2 linked regions of the Homo sapiens genome follow. The protein of the gene in region 1 interacts with the protein of each later gene in a pairwise test. Each region holds a gene or a part of one and is shown on either strand. Other genes may lie near its edges.

Region 1 (3,755 bases):
TCACTGCAACCTCTGCCTCCTGGGTTCAAGTGATTCTCCTACCTCAGGCTCCTAAGTAGCTGGGATTACAGGCATCTACCATGCCCGGCTAATTTTTTGCATTTTTAGTAGAGATGGGGTTTCACCACGTTGGCCAGGCTGGTCTTGAACTCCTGACCTCAGGTGATCCACCTGCCTCGGCCTCCCAAAGTGCTAGGATTACAGGTGTGAGCCACCACGCCCTGCCAAAAACCTGGGTGATTTCCTAAAGAGGAGAATATCTCACACACCTCTTCCTGTGCTCCACTACGATGTTCATCCTCCCCATGCACCTGCCCCGCACCTACAGCCTGATATCTTCATCTTCTAGGAATTATCAGAACAGGCATGGGAAAGAGTGGGACAGGGAGAATGAAAAGCTCCAGACATGACCCAATTCCAGTTTTTTTTTTTTTTTTGAGATGGAGTTTCGCTCTTGTTGCCCAGGCTGGAGTGCAATGGCACGATCTCGGCTCACCGCAACCTCCGCCTCCCAGGTACAAGCGATTCTCCTGCCTCAGCCTCCCTAGTAGCTGGGATTACAGGCATGTGCCACCACGCCCAGCTAATTTTGTATTTTTAGTAGAGATGGGGTTTCTCCATGTTGGTCATGCTGGTCTCAAACTTCTGACCTCAGGTAATCCGCCCGCCTTGGCCTCTCAAAGTGCTGGGATTATAGATGTGAGCCCCCACGCCTGGCCCTGCTTTTTTTTTTTTTTAATTAATTTTTTTTTTTTGAGACAGAGCATTGCTCTGTTGCCCAGGCTGGAGTGCAGTGGTGCGATCTCTGCTCACTGCAACCTCCGCCTCGTGGGTTCAAGGGATTCTCCTGCCTCAGACTCCTGAGTAGCTGGGATTACAGGCACCTGCCACCACACCTGGCTAATTTTTGTATTTTTAGTAGAGACAGGGTTTCACCATGTTGGTCAGGCTGGTCTCGAGCTCCTGACCTGGTGATCCACCCACCTCAGCCTCCCAAAGTGCTGGGATTACAGGTGTGAGCCACCACGCCTGGCCACCCAATCCCAGTTCTGTACAGAGCCACCACAAGGCAATAATACTTCATCCAGCGCAAACAGCTCGGCTGGGATTCAGAATCCTTCTCCCTAGAATCTCCAGAGGATTACTGGCCTAACCTCTTGGCCACATCATCCAACCTGGACTCCATACTGGGAAATCTGCCAAGAACATCTCAACCTGGAGTCCAGAACATTCACTCCCAGCCCAGGCTGGCTCCAAAGACCCCAGGAAACCTTCATGTGCACACTAGTTTCATCTCTTGGCCAGTGACTTCCTACATAACTTTTTTTTTCTTTTCATTTTTTTTCTTGAGACAGGGTCTCATTCTGTCGCCCAGGCTGGAGTGCAATGGCGTGATCTCAGCTCACTGCAACGTTCATCTCCTGAGTTCAATGAGTTCAAGCGATTCTCCTGCCTCAGCTTTCTGAGTAGCTGGGATTACGGACGTGTGCCACCACGCCCAGGTAATTTTTTTTAGAAACCCCGTAGAGACAGGGTTTCTCCATGTTGGCCAGGCTGGTCTCAAACTCCTGACCTCAAATGATCCACCTGCCTCAGCCTCCCAAAGTGCTGGGATTACAGGCGTGAGCCACCGCGCCCAGCCCCTGCATAACCTTTGGAGATCCACAGGCCTCTCCTTTCAGTCACCGGATCCAGGCTCAGTCCAGAGACCCTTGATAAGCTCTCATTGTCCGGAGGCCATACCTCATGCAGAGTTAAGGACCTCCAACTTCCCCACAACACCCTTCCTACTCAGGCTGGCCTCGGGGGCCGTGGACCAACTCAGAGAGCAAGCTGGCTTAGCCTCTGCCAAACCTAGGCCTAAAGGTGGCCAGGAGGCTGCATTTCCAGCCTCTCAAAGGCAGAGGAAAGCCCCAAGGGCTAAAGCCCTCAACCCGCACTTCCCAATCATCAACGAGGTCCAGTCAAGCCCCCATACCCCAGATTTGCCTGGGCCGGGCCCAAGCCCAAGAAAGTAAAGTAAGAAAAACTATGGCACTCACCGGCCCAGACCCTGTTCCTCCTTCCCTTTCAGCCTCACATACACCCAGGACGGCTTAAGGCCGAGTGACCGTTAAAAGTGGGGAATGGAGCGAGGCCAGGGACGCAACGCTCCCGCACGTGGTCACCCCTGGATCCTGAGGCGGACGCTGATTGGCTGCAGCGCGGGCCGCATTCTCCCGCTCAGGCCAGCTGAGCACGCTGGGCAGCCTGGGAGGCACCTAGGACAGCGCCACTCCCGCGCGTCTGCCTCGGACCCGCAGCTGATTGGCTGTGAAGGGGCAGAGCCTTGAGTCTCATTGGTCCATAGGCTTCAGGCCTCTTAGGCTGAGATTTCATTGATTTCCAGCCGGGCCCCAGCGTTGATCTGCTGTGGAGTCTGCCTTTTCCCACTCTCTCCACGAAGAGACTGGACCCTGATTCTCCTTCACCTGAACAGCCCTGGAGGCTCCCTCAGCAAGTGCTCAGGAGTACTACTGTCCTTTTTTTTTTTTTTTTTTTTGAGACAGAGTCTCGCTCTGTCGCCCAGGCTGGAGTGCAGTGGCGCGATCTCTGCTCACTGCAAGCTCCGACTCCCGGGCTCACACCATTCTCCTGCCTTAGCCTCCCAAGTAGCTGGGACTACAGGCGCCCGCCATCACGCCCGGCTAATTTTTTGTACATTTAGTAGAGATGGGGTTTCACCATGTTAGCCAGGATGGTCTCGATCTCCTGACCTCGTGATCCACTCGCCTCGGCCTCCCAAAGTGCTGGGATTACAGGCGTGAGCCACCACGCCCGGCTTTTTAAAAAATTATTATTTCATTTTTATTTTATGAACGGGGTCTCCCTCTGTTGCCGGTGCTGGGGTGCAATGGTGCAATCATAGCTCACTGCAGCCTCGAACTCCTGGGCTCAAGCAATCCTTCCACCTGGGCCTCCCAAAATTCTGGAACTACAGCCGTGAGACACCGTGCCTGACCTGCCTTTCTTGCTTCTATTTTGCCACCCTAAGTAGCTCCCATTTGCAAACCCTGTCACCTTTCTCTCAACCCTTTACCATCTGTGAGGTGTGTAGGGGGTGTGTAGGCTGCCGCCACACCTGATTGGCTGGGAGGCCCGTAAGAGCAAGCCAAGGCCAGGCACGGTGGCTCATGCCCGTAATCCCAGGGCTTTGAGAGGTCCAGGTGGTAGTAGGATCGCTTGAGCCCAGGAGGTCGAGGCTGCAGTGAGCTATGATCACACCACTGCACTGCAGCCTGGGCGACACAGTGAGGCCCTGTCTCTAATAAATAAATAAAAATAAAATAAAAGAGCCAGCCAGGCAGGGCACGGTGGCTCACGCCTGAAAACCCAGCACTTTGGGAGGCCGAGGAGGGCGGATCACCTGGGGTCAGGAGTTCGAGATCAGCATGACCAACATGGTGAAACCCCGTCTCTACTAAAAATACAAAAATTAGCTGAGCGTGGTGGCGGGCGCCTGTAATTCCAGCTACTCGGCAGGCTGAGGCAGGGGAATCGCTTGAACCCCGGGAGGCGGAGATTGCAGGGAGCCTATATCGCGCCACTGCACTCCAGCCTGGGAGACAGAGCGAGACGGCGTCTCAAAAAAAAAAAGAGCCAGCCAGGCTTCGGTGCCTGTGAACAGCTCCCTTTTCTCTCTTGTCCCACTCCACCACGATTGCTGGCACAGCTCACTCTGCCTCGCCTGGAAGCCTGGAAGTGTACAGGGACAG
Region 2 (2,414 bases), on another chromosome or scaffold:
AAATTACTCAGCCTCAGGCATTTCCTTATAGCAAAACAAGAATGGCCTAACACATGAGACAGCAGAGATATAGTAGGTTAAGCGACTCATTCAAGGTAACAAAGACAGCGTAGAGCTGCAGCAAGAACCCAGACCACCTTATTTTTAATCAGATCTCTTTCTGTTATACCACATAGGAAAGGTGGAACAACAGGTTATAATAATATGATGATAGGAGATAATATAGAATAATAGTAGAAAACATTTCTGTGTGCTTACTCTGGCTGGGCATTGTGGAAGGCCACTTACATATGTTATTTATCCCTCTCATCAATTCTGTGATATAATATTATCATCTTATAGAGAATAATAATGATACTACAGAGCTTAAGTAAAATGCCCAGGGGGAAACAGCTGGGAAGTGGTGCATCTGGGATTGGAAGCCAGATTGCCCTAACTGTGGCATCCCAGTGCACCACCGCTGAATTAAACTTGACAAAGCATGGGCTCTGGAGGCAGACAAATTTGGCTTCAGATCCTGTTCCTCTGATTAGCTTTGCACCATGGATAAGTTTCCTCTTCTTTCAATGAAGATGCTAGAACCTCACTATTAGGATTCATTTGAGCATCAAACAAAATCATCCAAGGACATTATTTTATTGCTTGTCACATAGTAAAGGCATACAAGACGTTAGCTGCTAATAAAAAGGGAATGAAAGTTTTAAAGGGTACTGTCTCCAGTAATGTTCTCCATCAGAAAAAATTGTAACTTGTTCTCCACCCAGCCCCTTGAACTAGTCCCATTGTATGCTACCTAAACAATGTGTTGTTCAAGGTCAGTAAATGACATCCTAACTATAATTCTACGAATTTGAATTTCTTAAGGTCCAAGAACTCTGCTTTGAAGTTCAGGATCTAGGTTACCAGAGCTAGACAACATCTTGACCTATAATTCTAACAGGTACTTATCAGATACATGAAAACAAATGCCAACTGAGTATAGGAGATCTCATTTTCTACATAAAGGAAACATATATGGCTAAAAATGTCTTTTGATGGTGTAAAAATTTTATGAATCTGATAACCACGGGGAGGGATAATGGAAGTATGATTTCAATCTCCCCTCCTCCCCTTTTACCTTTCTTTGCCTATTTCTGAGTATCTCTAGGCTACCAAATGTTTCAGTCTGAATGTAGAAAAAACAAAATAATGAGCAGGAATAGACCGACTGGCACAAAATGTACCAAATGGAAACAATTTCCAGACGGAATGTACACTGACATGCGCGACTTACTGTAAATAATTATACAAAGCACAATACAATGAGAACAAGAGCAAAAAAAAAAAAAAAAAAAAAAAAGGAAAATCTCAATCGGAGAAGAAAAAAGAATCCACTTGGCCAAGAGGCATGCATTAATGCATAGTGAATTCATGGACTTTCCTTATTCCCACCAAGGCTTGTGGCTTCAGGGGTATGAATAAACCTCCTTCTCCTTGCAAAACCCTCACACCAAATGCAATTGCGTGGCTGAAGCTTGACACCCACAATTGTGAAGAGAGAAGTGGGGAATGAAAAGCAGCAGACAGCCTGACAGAAAGTTCATGCTCACCCAAGAAAATGGAATTTTCCTTCAGGCTGAAAACATAATCATTATGAAACTGGCCATCAAATAATTTTCAGAGAAAATACTGTTGTAACCATCACTCCTTATCTGCAGGCATTGCAATCACTTCACAGGATGACCACAATGTTCATGATCACTTTTTAAAAACTTTTTGGTATATTTTTTCTTTTCTTTTGTTGTGGTAAACCATATAAAAATTTGCCATTTTAGCCATTAAATAAGTGTATAATTTCATGGCATTATTTACACTTACACTTTTACAAGAAAATTACTTTAAAGAAGTCTTCCATAGCAAGAAAAAACTTAATGAATTTTTAAGAGTGGGCATGGCTTCCTTCCCGATACCATTTTGGTTTTGCTGTTTTCCACCCTGGCAGTAACTTGAAACACACTATTCTCTCATTAGGGACTCACACCACCCCATCCTGCACATGTACCTGGTATCAATGGGGGCAGAGAGGAGATGAGTATGGGGTGTTGGGGGTGGGGGTGGAAGAGAATGTCTGGGTCGGTGTAAGCCTGCCATGGGCACATGGGAAAATTCTGTGACATGCACAGCCCCCAGATGGTGACTCAAGATTACTGCATGAGACGAGAGTCCGTGACATTCGGTTTGAATGGCATTTCTTAACAATTTTTATTGAGAACTTACTGACCCCATGTGACACACAAAACAAATGTACATACCCTTCACATATTTATAGAAACATTTTTACAAGTGCCCTAAAAATGGGTCAATGATGTACTTTTCTTTAAAACGTTTAATAGACATTTGATGAACTACTTTTGATGGGGTGCTATGCAAAATAT

The links. Proteins that work in one complex are often made in the same cells at the same time.
Region 2: the proteins of ZBTB32 (region 1) and RHOXF2 interact in binary tests that used the Homo sapiens proteins (3 or more experiments, as listed by UniProt).

What each region holds. Positions count from the first base shown.
Region 1 is NC_000019.10:35,702,911-35,706,665, reverse strand, and holds the start of ZBTB32 (zinc finger and BTB domain-containing protein 32), read right to left. Parts: upstream 2,109-3,755; 5' UTR 2,043-2,108; intron 1-2,042. UniProt on the Homo sapiens protein: DNA-binding protein that binds to the to a 5'-TGTACAGTGT-3' core sequence. May function as a transcriptional transactivator and transcriptional repressor. Probably exerts its repressor effect by preventing GATA3 from binding to DNA.
Region 2 is NC_000023.11:120,163,837-120,166,250, reverse strand, and holds the end of RHOXF2 (rhox homeobox family member 2), read right to left. Parts: 3' UTR 621-2,414; downstream 1-620. UniProt on the Homo sapiens protein: Transcription factor maybe involved in reproductive processes. Modulates expression of target genes encoding proteins involved in processes relevant to spermatogenesis.